2 separate regions of the Homo sapiens genome follow, and region 2 is linked to region 1. The links come from fine-mapping of genetic effects on plasma protein levels. Region 1 holds a variant in brackets. A gene starts in the other region. All regions are shown on their reverse strands. Region 1 overlaps FADS1 (fatty acid desaturase 1). Region 2 holds the start of APOE (apolipoprotein E).

The links. A credible set is the group of variants that fine-mapping cannot tell apart. PIP is the chance, under the fine-mapping model, that this variant and not a neighbour inherited with it causes the effect. The UK Biobank Pharma Proteomics Project read protein levels with antibody pairs (Olink). The fine-mapping took linkage between variants from a reference panel, not from the people measured, so its PIPs are less certain.
Region 2: it holds the start of APOE, and the variant in region 1 is the best candidate, but not a certain one, in a credible set for the plasma level of the APOE protein (UK Biobank, PIP 0.56).

Annotation. Positions count from the first base shown.
Region 1 is chr11:61,799,039-61,807,499 of GRCh38, reverse strand. It overlaps FADS1 (fatty acid desaturase 1), which reads left to right. Exons shown (of 12, transcript NM_013402.7): 6 at 776-836; 7 at 2,739-2,815; 8 at 3,733-3,830; 9 at 4,041-4,137; 10 at 4,389-4,468; 11 at 4,574-4,699; 12 at 5,038-7,873. The coding sequence ends at 5,089. Among named protein-coding and RNA genes, the nearest start is that of FEN1, 10 kb to the right of the region's middle. The variant G/A (reference allele first, on the strand shown) is at 1,432.
Region 2 is chr19:44,900,482-44,908,481 of GRCh38, reverse strand. APOE (apolipoprotein E) reads right to left here and starts at 2,686. Exons shown (of 4, transcript NM_000041.4): 1 at 2,641-2,686; 2 at 1,815-1,880; 3 at 530-722. The coding sequence starts at 1,857. TOMM40 (translocase of outer mitochondrial membrane 40) reads right to left here. Exons shown (of 9, transcript NM_001128917.2): 6 at 7,630-7,752; 7 at 7,378-7,454; 8 at 7,172-7,274; 9 at 4,793-5,452. The coding sequence ends at 5,313. RefSeq lists enhancers at 962-1,764, 2,567-3,369.

The DNA.
Region 1 (8,461 bases):
CTCATGTTTAAGTCAAGAGACCAAAAGATTTTGATGGGGAGAATTAGGGGCTGGATATAGAGGGAATACTTAACCTGTATAGGGGCAGATATGGTTGTCCATGGAGATTCTGGTGTGAAAAAGTACGATGGCGGCCGGGCGCACTGCCTCACACCTGTAATCCCAGCACTCTGGGAGGCTGAGGTGGGTGGATCACCTGAGGTTGGGAGTTCAAGACCAGCCTGAACAACATGGAGAAACCCCATCTCTACTAAAAATACAAAATTAGCTGGGCGTGGAGGCACATGCCTGTAATCCTAGCTACTTGGGAGGCTGAGGCAGGAGAATCGCTTGAACCCAGGGAGGCAGAAGTTGTGGTAAGCCAAGATCGTGCCATTGCACTCCAGCCTGGGCAACAAGAGCGAGACTCCGTCTAAAAAATAAACAAAAAAGTACGATGGGAGAAAGGGGAGAGGGCAGTGGGGCCTGGAAACCTCATGACAAAGAGAATGAACACAAGAGGGCCTGTGGTCCTGTAGACTCTGTGCTGTGCACATCCCTCATGTGAGCATGGGCCATCCAGCTGCAGGCCATGGTGTGACACACTCTGCAGATTACAGTCTAGGGCTTCATGTTCCATGTGCTGGAGGTAAGGCTGGGCCTCTTGGAGCTTTCCAATAGCACCAACAAGCTGTCAGCCCTGGAGGAGGCCTAAACCTCCAAGCAAGGAAAGGTCAAGTCACAGAGGGAGGAATCACTGGTCTCCGAATGCTCATGTGTTTGCTTTTCTTCACAGCTTGGGAAACAGAAGAAAAAATATATGCCGTACAACCACCAGCACAAATACTTCTTCCTAAGTGAGTGTCCCCATCCAACACAGGGGAGCTGCCTCAGGAGGGAATGCTGAGGGAATGAGGAGGATGTGGCTGTCCAAGGGATTATGGTATTTTAAGGAAAGGGGCTAGAGGAAGTACCCCACTCCCACCCCCAGTTACTCCCTGCATGACAGCAGTTTGCCATCTCAGCTGAGCGAAGTGAAGTTAGGCTGATGATTGGTTGAAGGCAAACTAGTTCTTCCCATCCAACCCCAGTTTCCACTGGGAAGCTGGGTGTTTGGGGTGTAGAGGGGCCTCTTGCTTTATCCTCAACCTTATCTTTTTTTTTTTTTTTTTGAGACGGAGTCTTGCTCTGTCGCCCAGGCCGGACTGCGGACTGCAGTGGCGCAATCTCGGCTCACTGCAAGCTCTCCGCTTCCCGGGTTCACGCCATTCTCCTGCCTCAGCCTCCCGAGTAGCTGGGATTACAGGCACCCGCCACCGCGCCCGGCTAATTTTTTGTATTTTTAGTAGAGACGGGGTTTCACCTTGTTAGCCAGGATGGTCTCGATCTCCTGACCTCATGATCCACCCGCCTCGGCCTCCCAAAGTGCTGGGATTACAGGCGTGAGCCACC[G/A]CGCCCGGCCCCTCAACCTTATCTTAAACTTTGTCAAGATGGGCCAAGGTAACCTGGTAGAGCCCAGTCCAACCCCCAGAGGAACAAAGGTACAGATAGTTCTGGAAGGATGGGTCCTGAGGAGAGAATGGAAGAGCTGTTAGAACGAAGAAGATCTTTCTGATGACTGCCACATATTCCCAGCTTTAAAAGTCTGTCCCAGCTACTAAGGAAACTGAGGTGGGACCATCCTTTGAGCCCAGGAATTTGGGGCTGCAGTAAGCTCCGATTGTGCCACTGCACTCCAGCCTGGGCAACAGAGTGAGATCTTGTTTCTTAAAACAACAACAACTCTGCTCCATAATGCCTAAAATGAGCTTTAAACGCCTTTAAATTTTCAAATTTTTTAAAGAAGGAAGGGAAGGAGTCCACTGATCTTATTTTAGTTTGAAGGAATTCATCCTAACTGCCTATCACCAACTATCACGAATAGAGAAAGGCGATGGGGCAGAAGGGTAGAGCAGAGACCTCTGGAAGAAATAGTTTTAGAATCCATGGCACATCAAGATGGAGGAGCCATGGGTGAGCATTGTCATGCTAGGAGTTATGGGTAGCATCAGGTGCCACAGAGAAGGGCTACAGAAAAGGAAATGAGGAAGCATGTAGAATGCAACACTTCTTCAACTCCCAGTTTTCTTTCAAGAGAGGCCCCTCTGTTCCGTCCCACAGCTGACCTCCAGGGCTTCAGATTGGGGTGGCACAAGCCCATCTCCCTAGTTTAAGGAAGTGAGCTTCACAGCCTGTGAAGGATCCACAGGGTCCCTCCCAACACACACACACTTTCCTGCTCCTGCCCCTTCACCTGCATGGTGGAGCTGCCAGGAACAAAGGGCAGATGACTGTAGGGACAGGGCTGTGGCCAAGGTAAGTAAGAGAGTATTAGCACCCTTTTAAAAGTGTGGGATCCTTGGAGTGTGTATGTAGAAAAGAGAAGAAAAATGAAAAATAATAAAGGTGTGGGAGCAGAGCAAGTCCCATGCGTGGGGCCTGAGTTCCCAAGCACCTGTCACTGAAGAGTGCCACTCGCACCCCTCACCTTCCCTGGCATCCTCTTGGGAGTTTTTGCCTTCCCCAGACTTGGATTTATGCCCACCTTCAGTGCCTGCTGGTTCCAGTGGATTGCAGAGCACTCAAGCACCTGGAGGGGAGACAGAAGGGATGGTTGGAAGAGGCAGCCCCCTGCTAGAGGCCATCTCTCCCAACATCAACTGGCCCTTTCATGACCTTCCTGTGCTCATGCCTCCTCTTTGTCTCGGTTTCCTCCCCAGTTGGGCCCCCAGCCTTGCTGCCTCTCTACTTCCAGTGGTATATTTTCTATTTTGTTATCCAGCGAAAGAAGTGGGTGGTGAGTATCCATGGCCCAAGAAGCCCACATCCTTGTCTCCAGCACCCAGAGTGGGGGATAGGGGTTCCCCAGGGGAAACTTGAGACTGACTCTAGGCCTAATTTAGAACAAAATAATAGAACCAGACACAGATCCTCCTTATCTCTAAGTGGGACGAAATGATTTGAGCTTAGCAGGCAGCCTGATTCCCAATGTGTAATTTCATGCGGTCAGTGTCTCCAGAGGTTCTTGTACTGGGCATAATGCCAGGGGGCTGAGTTGGGAATGGGGAAGATGAATGAGAGACAATACCTACTTTCAAGGAAACTTCTGATGAAGCAGAATGTGGTTATTAATCAGAAAAGAGGTACAGGCAATAGGTTCTGGGGACTCCAAAAGGGGCCTGACTGCACCTGGCTTTGTGAAGTCACTTTTCTAGCTGGCCTTGAGGCTGGGCAGGGTTTCTGACAGGCAGAGGTGGAGCAGGGGGGATGAACTCTGAGCAGAGAAGCTGGAAATGAGGGGTAAGTTTGACCACCAGACATATTGTGGAGGACTAGTGTCAGGGGAAGAGTATGGTGCTTGGTTCAGTGATGAGAGATTTGATCAGGGCACTGGCATGGACTGAGCCATGGTCCTGGCAGATTCATTTGGCGGCATGCTGAAGGATTTAGATTGGCTAGGAAGAGCTAGAGGCAAAGAGACCTTGTAGGCCTTGGTACTTTTGAAGGGGACATGCAAGAAGGGCTGGGGGGTGCCAATGGGAATGGAAGAAAGGAGCAGTGGCACTAGATACTGCAGGATTGGACCCCTGAGAAGCTGAAGATGAGTGAGTCTGGATAACCAGGAGAATGGCTGCACCATGCAAACAAAGAGCTGCTGAGAGGAAGAGGAAGAGTTGTTCGTGACTGTTATGCTCGCTGCTTTTCTCACTATAGGACTTGGCCTGGATGATTACCTTCTACGTCCGCTTCTTCCTCACTTATGTGCCACTATTGGGGCTGAAAGCCTTCCTGGGCCTTTTCTTCATAGTCAGGTAGTATTCGGTGGGGGCGGATAGGGACTGGTGAAGGAAATGTTGGGGAGTGACCAGTCTGGTCTAGGGGCCGTGCTGGGGCTTTGGGTAACAGTGGGTGTTTCAGGAGTTGGCTTGGGAAAGTAGACAGGCTGGAGCAGTTATCTGAGGGGGGAATCAGAATTCTGGGCTCTGTGTGTACTGTTTTTGTCTGTGTAATACATCTAACAGGTTCCTGGAAAGCAACTGGTTTGTGTGGGTGACACAGATGAACCATATTCCCATGCACATTGATCATGACCGGAACATGGACTGGGTTTCCACCCAGGTAAGGGACAGTCACTCAGAAGACTGGAGCATAACACAACTATTGAAAAGGATGCGTAGGTGAAAACAGCAAAAACAAAAAGTCCCCCAAACAGCATTTTCTCATTAGCCTGAGGCTCTTGTTCTGCAACCATGTGAAGGGAGTGACCAAGACAGTCTCATGTCCCTTCCTCAGCCAGCTTTACCTGGAGAATGCTGGGCTGGCCTTTCCATCTGATATTCAACATGCTCTCCCCTGACCTTTTCCGCCAGCTCCAGGCCACATGCAATGTCCACAAGTCTGCCTTCAATGACTGGTTCAGTGGACACCTCAACTTCCAGATTGAGCACCAGTGAGTAGGGAGCCTGGGGAAGCAGGGTCCTGGGGAGGGTGTAAGTGTTGGGTACAGGTGGGAGCAGAGAAGCAGGAACCACTGACTCCCCCGTTCTCCCTAAAGTCTTTTTCCCACGATGCCTCGACACAATTACCACAAAGTGGCTCCCCTGGTGCAGTCCTTGTGTGCCAAGCATGGCATAGAGTACCAGTCCAAGCCCCTGCTGTCAGCCTTCGCCGACATCATCCAGTGAGTATCTGAGACCAGGAAGATGGCTAGTAGGGAGGGAAGAGGGCAGGGCAATGGAAATGATGACATGTAGGGTGGGGAGTGAACAGAAGGTGTTCCCAGTCGTGTGGGATGGAGTTCACCATGGCAAAGGCAGGATTCTTTATTGGACCTGTGGCCAGGTCAGGCCTTTGCCCTCATTGGGGTTCCCCTCAGTACCATGGCCCAAGCTAGCTTTCTCTAAAGTAGAGGGGAGGAAAACCTCCAGATGGAAGAAGGCCTTAACCTCACTGCTCCATCTCCGGTGGGTTCAACTCTGCTTGTCTCCCTCACTGTCTGCCCCCATTTTGTCCCTGCAGCTCACTAAAGGAGTCAGGGCAGCTCTGGCTAGATGCCTATCTTCACCAATAACAACAGCCACCCTGCCCAGTCTGGAAGAAGAGGAGGAAGACTCTGGAGCCAAGGCAGAGGGGAGCTTGAGGGACAATGCCACTATAGTTTAATACTCAGAGGGGGTTGGGTTTGGGGACATAAAGCCTCTGACTCAAACTCCTCCCTTTTATCTTCTAGCCACAGTTCTAAGACCCAAAGTGGGGGGTGGACACAGAAGTCCCTAGGAGGGAAGGAGCTGTTGGGGCAGGGGTGTAAATTATTTCCTTTTTCTAGTTTGGCACATGCAGGTAGTTGGTGAACAGAGAGAACCAGGAGGGTAACAGAAGAGGAGGGACCTACTGAACCCAGAGTCAGGAAGAGATTTAACACTAAAATTCCACTCATGCCGGGCGTGGTGGCACGCGCCTGTAATCCCAGCTACCCAGGAGGCTGAGGCAGGAGAATCGCTTGAACCGGGGAGGTGGAGGTTGCAGTGAGCTGAGATCACGCCATTGTACTCCAGCCTGGGCGACAGAGCAAGACTCCATTTCAAAAAAAAAAAAAAAATCCACTCATATAAAAGGTGAGCTCAGCTCACTGGTCCATTTCTCAGTGGCTTCTCCATCCTCATTTGCAAACCTCAGAGGGATAAGGCAGTTGAACCTGATGAGCAAGAATTATAACAGCAAGGAAACATTAATGCTTAGAATTCTGAGATCCAGCACAACTCAGTCTGTGGGAGCTCAGCTCGCTGCCCAGGGATAGGTATGACCTATGTCTGCCTTAGGCTGCTGGGAGATGCCATTCTCCAGTTTCAGAAGCAGGCAGGGCAAAGGTCAAGACTGTGGTATTGGGGTCTTTTGGCTCTGAAGGATCCTGGAACCACTGATTTTGGTTTATTCCCTCCAGGGTCTAAAGAGAACAAGAGGTGCTAGCTCTTACCAAAACAGATGGTAGAGAGAGTTGCTGGCTATTTAAAAAGCTCTTTCATCTTTTAATTCACCTCTTCTTTTCACCTCTTTAACCACTCCTCAGGAACAGAACACTTCTAGGACTGGGGGTCTTTTAGCTCCATAAGCAAGTGAGCAGATGGGACAAGTTAGTCTTTTCTCCCTAGAAACAAAGGGGATGCCCAGTGGTTTCCCTTTGCTTCCCAACCTAAAATTTCAAGTTTAATAAAATAGCAATTAGCAGAAGTGACCAAATTGGGAGATAATTATCAGTCATGAGGAAAGACACAGATTTCGGTCATAAAGAATGTAAGGGCTATAAGTAGAAACTTTCTATAACCTAAATGATGTTATAGAATTATTTTTGAGCAGGAGCAGAAAGATTAAATATGATCACTTCATACTTCTAAATCAGAAATAGGAAGATTAAAACCACAGAACAGTTTGTGATTTCTATTGCTGTAGCTAGGTATCTTACTCTGTCCACTCTTGTTCAAGTATCTAACTCTTCTGGAAACCAAATAGGCTTTAGAAGAGATTATCCTATATTCCTATCAGTATAATACTAAAATGTAACTTTTTAATCATCTGGTTTTTAAAAGATAAACAGTTTAGCCCATCTCTCCAGAGAGCAAACATAGGAATATGACTCAGGAGCCTCCTAGGGCTTATCATCAGCCCTCACACCCGCTTCCCCCTCCAACCCACAGCCTTTGCTTCCAGGTGGCAGGATTACTACTTTGCCTCTTCAGCAGCATCTACTCTAGGCATATTGATCATTTTAGACACTGGGAGAAGAGAACCTCAAACTAGGAGGAAAAGACAGAGCCTCCACTTAGTTTTGGGAGGGGATGGCAGACAGTCAAGGAGATGAGCGTCCTAAGGCATGTTGGGATAGGGTCAGATGCACCACCCATGGAGAGGTTTGTCAACACAAAGACATGGAAGGTTAGAGGTTTGTCAACAAAAAGACATGGAAGGTTAGGTTTGTCAACACAAAGACATGGAAGATTAGAGGTTTGTCAACACAAAGACACAGGAAGAATGGGCTGCAGAAGATTTAGATGTTTTCCATTTGGGCACATTTTACTTAGCTGGAGAACTAGGTTTAAAACAGCCTGGGTAGGAAAATTAGAAGCAAGCTGGATGCAGTGGCTCATGCCTGTAATCCCAACACTTTTGGGAGGTCCAGGCAGGAGGATCACTTGGGCCCAGGAGGTCAAGCCTGCAGCGAGCTGAGATCACACCACTGCACTCCAGCCTGGGGTGATAGAACAAGACCCTGTCTCAAAAAAAAAAAAAACAACAAAAACTTAGAATTGAGGAGTTGTACCTCCATTGGCTTCCTCACTCCAAAATAGGTGCTGATCCTTCCTATTCCTATTCTTTGCCACCTTTTGGGTGTGGTGTCACCAGCCTGTTTAGCCAAGTAGCTTTGGGCATAGGCTGCCCAATCTGAGCAAACACCAGTGAGGCTCTATTGAGCCAAGACCAAGTCCTCAAAGCACCTGAACCACTGTGGCCTTCTCAGCCTACAGCAGTGTGGTCTCTTACATGGCCACAAAGGGACACACAGTGACAAAAGGCTCGGAATGTTACAATGGTAAAATGAGTGATCTCAAATCCACTGACAGATATAAAATAGGCTTAGAGAGGAAAAGCTGCCTCTGGTCAAGTAGATCATGGCAGCATGAATTCCAACTCACTTTTTTACAACTCCAACTTCTATGTTTATCTTTGTTACTTTCACTTTTTTACAACCTGGCCAGAGGCATTTTTTAAATCAGGCCCAATATCAGTATTCTTTTTGTGTGTGCCAATTTTGTTATCACATCCCTATGAAGTTGAAAAATAAAGTTAATTTTGACCAAAAGACTTCATTTGTAACCCATGATGTTCATCTGTGTGTGCACAGGATTCCTGAGTGCCTCTGCTACGAGTTACTGTTCACCTCTCTGTGCTCTTAAGTTCTTGAATCACTAGACTCCCCTTTGTATTGGGCAGAGGAAGAAACATCAGGACCCTCCAGAAAACACCAAGGCAAGGGTGAAGTATGGCAAGGAAGAGCAAGGCAAAGTCCTTCTGATGACTCCCGTGTTCAAATGTGAGATTGTCAATAATCTCACCAAGTTTCACACGTATCACTTCCTCCTATTCATGAGGCAATGCCCTTGCCCTTTTGTCCTTCAGCTTTCCATTTTGAATTATTTTCTCTTTATTTTTACACTTACTTGTTTTGAGACAAGGTCTGGCTCTATGGCCCAGGCTGGAGTGCAGTGGTGCTGCCATCTTAGTTCACTGCATTCTCTGCCTCCCGGCCTCAAGCCATCTTCCCACCTCAGGCTAATTTTTTTTTTTTTTTTTTTTTTTTTTTTTTTTTTTTTGAGACCAGAGTTTCACTCTTGCTGCTCAGGCTGGAGTGTAGTGGCGTGATCTCAGCTGATTGCAGCCTCCGCCTCCT
Region 2 (8,000 bases), not on the chromosome of region 1:
GCTGGGATGGGGCGGGCGAGATGGGGATGAGCCAGAGAGACCCAAGAGGGAGAGAAGGAACGGGGCAGAGGCCGAGAGAAGGAGACAGAGACAGATGCAGAGAGCAGATGCAGAGGGCAGAGGCAGAGACGAAGAAGGAGCTAGGAGGCCGGGCAAGGTGGCTCATGCCTCTAATCCCAGCACTTTGGGAGGCCGAGGCGGGAGGATCGCTTGAGCCCAGAAGTTCAAGACCAGCCTGGGCAACACAGTGAGACCCCATCTCTCTGTCTCTATATAAAAGAGCTAGGGAAGGACAGAGACAGAGCCAGGACGAGTGTGAGAGACTGAGTCAGAAGGGAAGAGAGAGAGACAAAGCTGAGAGAGAGAATTCCAGAGAGCTAAAGCCAGGAGTCAGAAATGGGAAGAGGAAGCTAGAACCAGCAGAGACCCAGGCCCCCCAAGACTTAGCGACAGGGGCAGAATGAAACCTGGACCTGGGGAGGTATAGCCGCCCACCAGGAGGGTCAAGGGCCAGGATGGGGACACTCACCTCAGTTCCTGGGTGACCTGGGAGCTGAGCAGCTCCTCCTGCACCTGCTCAGACAGTGTCTGCACCCAGCGCAGGTAATCCCAAAAGCGACCCAGTGCCAGTTCCCAGCGCTGGCCGCTCTGCCACTCGGTCTGCTGGCGCAGCTCGGGCTCCGGCTCTGTCTCCACCGCTTGCTCCACCTTGGCCTGGCATCCTGTGTGGAACAAGTTCAAGGTGGGTCAGGGTCCTTCTGACCCCGTCCAGGCATCTAGTACCTAGGGGCACACAGAAGGTGCTCCACAAATGCTTCTTTGGAGCCATGGTGGGCAGGGTGAGGGGGGAGTCGGTTTAATCACTTGGAAAGCATTATGTATTTATAAACAGGGTCTTGCTCTGTCACCCAGGCTGGAGTGCAGCGGCCTGAACATGGTTCACTGCAACCTTGACCTTCTGGGCTCAAGCGATCCTCCTGCCTCAGCCTCCTGAGTAGCTGAGAGCACAGGTGTGTGGCACCATGCCTGGCTAATTTTTGTATTTTTAGTAGAGACAGGGTCTCACTATGTTGCCCAGGCTGGTGTTGAACTCCTGGGCTCAAGTGATCCTCCCACCTTGGCCTCCCAAAGTGCTGGGATTACAGGGGTGAGCCACCGCGCCCAGCGGAAAAGCATGTATTGAGTGTCCTTGTGTGCCCCAGGCAGGGCTGTGTGGGGGTGATGGAGAATAAAGATCACAGCTGCCCCGTGTCTGGTATTCACTATCTGCCTGCAATGCATTAGAAACCTCTAACTCCCAGCCAGGTGCGGTGGCTCACGCCTGTAATCCCAGCACTTTGGGAGATCGAAACGGGCAGATCACCTGAGGTCAGGAGTTCCAGACCAGCCTGGCCAACATGGTGAAACCCCGTCTCTACTGAAAATACAAAAAAGTTAGTCGGGTGTGGTGGCATGTGCCTGTAGTCCCAGCTACTTGGGAGGCTGAGGCAGGAGAATGGCGTGGACCTGGGAGGCGGAGCTTGCAGTGAGCCGAGATCCCGCCACTGCACTCCAGCCTGGGCGACAGAGCGAGACTTCATCTCAAAAAAACAAAACAACAACAACAAACAACAACAACAAAACAACTTCTAACTCCTATCTCAAGGATGGGGGAAACCGAGGCCCAGAGAGCGTCAAATCGCTGTTCAGAGCCAGGAAGCAGCACAGAAGCCTCAGAAGAGGGGGCCCAGGGTCTGCCTGAATGGGGCCAGGAGGTTGAGGTGAGGATGAGAGGGGGAGGAGCGGGGGGAACCGAGCAAGCCCCGCCCCCATACCTGCCAGGAATGTGACCAGCAACGCAGCCCACAGAACCTTCATCTTCCTGCCTGTGATTGGCCAGTCTGGGGAAGGAGAAACTGTCAATCAACCGCCAGTGAGGACTCCTCCCACCCCCAGCCCGGCCCCAACCCGGCCTCACCCCAGGTTAGCCTTCCAAGCCTTGTTGCATTATCTGCAACAGCCTAATCCCAGCACATTTACCAAGCCGCCCCCAACCCATTCCCTATTTAACTCCCTCCTGGTCTTCTCTTATCTCCCCATCCCCAGGTCGGCCTCCATAGAAAATTCCATCTTCCTCTCCCGGGGTTCAAATTCCATCCCCCCACCCCCTCCCCACCGCCGGTTCCATCTCAGTCCCAGTCTCGCATTCCTCATTCTCCCTTCACATTCTAAGCTCCAACCTCACAGTTAAGCGCCGTGTTCCATTTATGAGCTAATTCAGTCCTCATTTTAAAGTTCTCCAATCGACGGCTAGCTACCGTGTCGCTGCCCCTGGCTCCCCAGTTATGGAGATCTGAGGACACTGGGGACACCCAGTAGGTGCTCGATAAATGATAGTGACAACTCGTGGAGTCCTGCTATGGCTTACATCCCAGTCCAGCTGCTCTCCCCACCCCACCTTCTAGCGGGTCGGGTCGTCTCTGCTGCCCAGCCCTTCCCAGGTCCAGTCCCCTGCTGCTTGCCTCACCCCCGCTCCTCCTCTCCCCAAGCCCGACCCCGAGTAGCTCTCCTGAGACTACCTGGAGGCCAGGGGTTCCCAGGGTCCCAGCTCTTTCTAGAGGCCCCTGAGCTCATCCCCGTGCCCCCGACTGCGCTTCTCACCGGCTCCTGGGGAAGGACGTCCTTCACCTCCGCTGGGGCTGAGTAGGACTCAAGGATCCCAGACTTGTCCAATTATAGGGCTCCCCCTGTCCCGCCCCCTCCCCCAGGGATAGGGCGGGCTGGGCCAGCCCCCAGTCACGAGGTGGGCTGTTCTCCCCCTGCCCCAGGCACAGCAGGGCAGAGGGAGGAAGGAGGTGGGGCATAGAGGTCTTTTGACCACCCCCCACAGTCCCCAGGAAGGGAGGACACCTCGCCCAGTAATACAGACACCCTCCTCCATTCTGGGGGCCAAGCGTGGAAGGGGAATGTGGAGGCTGCCGCCCAGAGTCCTCCTTTCCTGACCCTGTCCTTTCCTGTGCCTGGATGAATGTAATCTGGAGAGGGGGCTGGGGATCTGGACTCCTGGATCCCAGAAAGAAAGTAGGGCTAGGGGGCTGGACAGAAGTGGGATGGGAGGGGCTGGGGGCGGTAGCTCACGCCTGTAATCCCAGCACTTTGGGAGGCCACAGTGGGCGAATCACTTAAGGTCAGGAGTTTGAGACCAGCCTGGCCAACATGGTGAAACCCCATCTCTACTAAAAATACAAAAGTTAGCCAGGCGTGGTGGCGGGCGCCTGTAATCCTAGCTACTTGGGAGGCTGAGGCAGGAGAATCGCTTGAACCCGGGAGGCGGAGGTTACAGTGAGCCGAGATCTCGCCACTGCACTCCAGCCTCAGCAAGAGGGAGACTGTCTCAAAAAAAGAAAAAAAAGAAAGTGGGGCTAGGCGGCTGGACAGAAGTGGGATGGGAGGGGTGGGAACAGTATGATGCACCTGCTAAAAGTCGAGGCTTTGCAAATGGGACCTGGGTTTTAATCACAGCTTCCTCTTTGGTTGTGACCTTGAGCACAGGGGAGCCCCCTCCCCACATGTGAAATGAGATTCCAGCACCTCCCCCTGGCTGCCACAGGTATTGTGGTTTCCAGGGGCTTGAAGCCGTGCTTCTGGGTTAAGGTTAGGATTCTGGAGTCAAATTGCCAGGGCGTGAATCCTGGCTCTGCCAGTTGCCAGCTGTGTGACCTTGGGCAAATGACTTGTCCTCTCTGAGCATCAAGTTCCTTTGCTCATCAGACTGGGAAAGCAGCGGCACGGGTATGTTTGGTGACAAGCTAACGTGTATTGAGCATGGAGGACAGCCCTGGCACACAGCGGTCCTATGTTAGGGCTAGCAATGGACAGGCCACAGTGAACGCTCAGACGCTGTCACTTTCCTAAGCCCTGTTATAAATCCCAGATGTTTCAGAGGAGAAACCCGTGGTTCAGCAGCAAGACGAATGGCAAAACCACACAGTGAGAACTGGGAGAGACTGGGACTCATTCCTGGCTCCTGGAGCGGGTGGGATCAGAAGATTCTGCGGGTCAGGGGAGGCTGAACTCCTGGTTCGAGAAGGAACCCCCAGTGCCGGGCCGGGCCTGTTTGCTTTGGCTGGCAAGGGGTGGCTGAGGTGGGGTTGGTAACCTGGGGTTGGTTCTACTCAGCAGCCTCCTTCCCCAGACCCTGGGGGCAGACAGGGTTTCAGTTCCTGGAGGCTCGGGAGTCGTGGTGGGCATCAGCTGACCCCAGCCCTAGGTTGGCAAAATCCAGACAGCACCAAGTCCTCAGACACAGGTGACCCAACTCCCATGGCTGGCCTAGGCCCCTCCTCCCAGGCCTGCGAGTCCTTGAGCCCCTTCTCCCTGACACAGCAGTTCCTAGTACCCTAGTTGTTCTGAAGCTGTTCCAGTAGCTTGAACCCTCTCCCAGCTCCCTGCCCCCATCTCTGCACTCAGAGACAGTGTCATCTCTGCTGCTGCAGTCTGCAGGGACAAAGTCCTCTATAGCCACTCCGGCCAGGTCAAGCTGGGGGCAAGTGACCTTGAGACCCTACCCTCAGGCAAGGGAAGGCCCGTAGTGTCCCCCAGCAGGGCAGATGTTCCGGATGGGAAGATAGCGACCCCAGGCCACGCTGCGCCCCTCTGAGCCGGACTTAAGGCAGCATCAAGGATCCGCTGCTTTCCGTGCTCCGGCCCTCTGGCGCCCCCTGCAGGCGGCTGGGGGAAGGTCAGGGCGGCCAGACTCCGGATGAAATGCTCAAAACAGGCCAGACACACTTGAGAAAACGGAGGCCTCCCATCGTTTTTTTTCCCACGTATATTTTTTGTTGTTTTTTGTTTTTTTTCTGTAAAATGTCCCGGTTCTTCCATAACTTATAAACATGATTTATACCGAGGAGATGGGAAAGTGGACGGGGCAGGGTGGACTGACCGGGGATGGGGAAGCTCCTCTCGCTGCCCCCTCGGGGCGGGCCCAGGCCCTTTGGAGGATGGGGACGCCAGGACACTCCTCCCTGAGGTTGTCTGGCCGCCTCTGCCCCTGGTGCTCAGAATCCTGCGTGCCCCTCAATTCCGGAATCCCTCCCGGGACCCCAGGCCCACTGGGCATGCTGCCCCTGCTACTCAGAATCCCGAAGCGCCATTCAGTTCCAGAATCCCCTCCTCAGCTGCTGGGGTGGCGGGGTCCCTCCTTTCCAATGTCCCCCCCGACCCCCAAGGGGGGAGGGAAGGGAGGGGGGCTCAGGTCTCCCCTCTGTGGCAGGGGGAGGTGGAGGTGGAGGTGGAATCGGAAGGGCGTGGAAGGCGGGGGCCAGGAGGGCTCAGCCGATGGTGAGGCCAAAGCCACACTGAAACTTGTTCTTGCGGTGATTCAGGAAGGCCCCAAGGGCCAGTGTCAGGGGCAGGGGTGGGAGCTTCTTCTCCAGCGTGGCACCCACGATCCAGTTGCTATCCACAGAGCCTGCAGGGAAGAGCTGAGGTGAGAGGCGTGCCAGCTTCCCACCATATCCATGCAGAGTTCCTGGCCACCTTGGATACCAGCCACATGCCGACAGCTTCCAGACCTTTAACCACACTGCTCCTGCCACCCTGAAACCCCATCACACCAACAACTTCACGCTGGAGCAAATGGCTCACTCCTCCTCTGCTCTCCGCTCAGTGACCCCTGCCCTCTGAAAAGCCCTCTAGACCCCTGGGTTCCCCCAACCTAGTCCTGCCCACTCTGCGGATGAATCTGTTCCTCTCACTGAGTCCCGTGAAGACAGGGCTGGTCACCGCTGTGGCCCCAGCAGTGCTCAGCAGGAGGCTCAAACACCCAAAATCTGTGAGCCACAGATATCCAAGAAGACTTAAGACTGGACATTGGGACTACGACCAGTGTGCCTGAGATGAGGTTCTGGATTTAGTTGTGACCTTGAAACCTCTGGAAGCCTCAGTTTCCACTAACGTAAGATGAATGGGGCAGGCTCGAGGCTTCCAAAGTGCCTTCTACCCTGGCTGGGTGTGGTGGCTCACACCTATAATCCCAGCACTTTGGGAGGCCAAGGCTTGAGTCCAGGAGTTCGAGACCAGCCTGGGCAACATGGTGAAACCCCCATGTCTCCCAAAACTATCAAAAAAATTAGCTGGGCCTGGTGGCATACACCTGTGGTCCTAGCTACTCAGGAGGCTGAGGTGGGAAGGCTGCTTGAGCCCGGGAGGTGGAGGCTGCAGTGAGCCGCAGTTGCACTGCTGCACTCTAGCCTGGGCGACAGAGGGAGACCAGTCTCAGAAAAATAAGAGAGTCAAGTGCAGAAAAATAAGAGGGGATGGACAAAGCTCCAGCTTGGCCCAAACACCCATCAGATGCTCCACCAGATTTTTTTTAACATTTATTTATTTATTTCATTTTATTTTTTTTGGAGATGGAGTCTCACTCTGTCACCCAGGCTGGAGTGCAGTGGTGCAGTCTCAACTCCCTGCAACCTCCGCCTCCCAGGTTCAAGTGATTCTTGTGCCTCAGCCTCCTAAGTAGCGGGGACTACAGTTGCAGCACGCTACCACACCTGGCTAATTTTTGTACTTTTAGTAGAGAGGGGATTTCACCACGTTGGCCAGGCTGGTCTCCAACTCCTGGCCTCAAGTATTCTACCTGGCTTGGCCTCCCAAAATGCTGGGATTACAGGCGTGAGTCACCACGCCTGGCTGCTCTACCTACTTTTTTTTTCCAAGCATAAAACATAGTAGAGGGTTGTCCACCTACTTTTTTTTTTTTGAGATGGAGTCTTGCTCTGTCACCCAGGCTGGAGTGCGGTGGCACGATCTCGGCTCACCGCAAGCTCCGCCTCCTGGGTTCATACCATTTTCCCGCCTCAGCCTCAGTAGTTGGGACTATAGGCACCCGCAACCACACCCGGCTAATTTTGTTTTTGTATTTTTAGTAGAGACGGAGTTTCACCGTGTTAGCCAGGATGGTCTCAATCTCCTTACCTCGGCCCGCCTTGGCCTCCCAAAGTGCTGGGATTACAGGCGTGAGCCACCGCACCCGGCCCCACCTACCTTTTAACAAGTGTTCCCTGGTAATGTGGAGGCCCACAGGGTGGCAGCACACTGTCCTCCAGCACCTGTGGTGGCCCACACATCCACTCAGAGTTGAGTCACCTCCTGCCTGTTTCCCGCGTAGGGGAACCGAGACCTTTACCTTTGAAGAGGAGGTTGGCCTTGGGCAGGTCCAGCTGGTACCCGAAGGAGACGCTGGTGTCCTGCATCCTTGTGCTGGCCTCAAACTCCACACCCACCTGCAGCTGGAGGGGCCGGAGCAACACATGAGAATTAGCAAGTGGCCCCACCTGGACTTCCAGGCCCAGCAGCCCCTGGCAGCACCAGCTAGTCCCTGCACCCACTCACCTGGTCACTGGCTTTGTGGTAGTATGTTGCGTGCATGCCCGCCTGGCCCAACGTTACCGTTGCCAACCAGTTGTTCACTGTCAGAGAGTGGGGTGGAGGCGGGGTCTCATTACCAAGGGGATTTGGGCATCTGGGAACCCAGGCCTCCTCCCTCAGACCTGAGTGTCCAGGGCCCTAGCCCGTCCTCCCTCAGACCCAGGAGGAGTCCAGGGGCCCAGCCCCTCCACCCTCGGACCCAGGCGCCAGGCTCACATGTGTATTTCCCAGCTAGAGACATGACAGTGCCCTCCTCTCCAGGCCGCCGGTGGTAGACCAGCTCTCCACCCAGGGCCAGGCAAGGCGTGATGCTCTGGAGGTAGTGGGCTACGAGGATTCCTGTGGGCAAAATGACGATCAGTTTCCACCCACCCTGAGTGCCAGGCTAGACTCCACCTCCAGGAAGCCCTCTAGGCTCACCCCGGCTGGAGGCTTGGGCTTGCTCTCAGGCCTCCCTCAAGGGCTCCTTTCTCCTAACCCATCGCCCAGGGGTTCCCTACCGCTGAGGTCAGCGTCCCAGGCCCTGCTATGACTGCATTACCTGAAGGACCTCATCTGGTCGACACAAGCCCATGTGGTCAGCATTT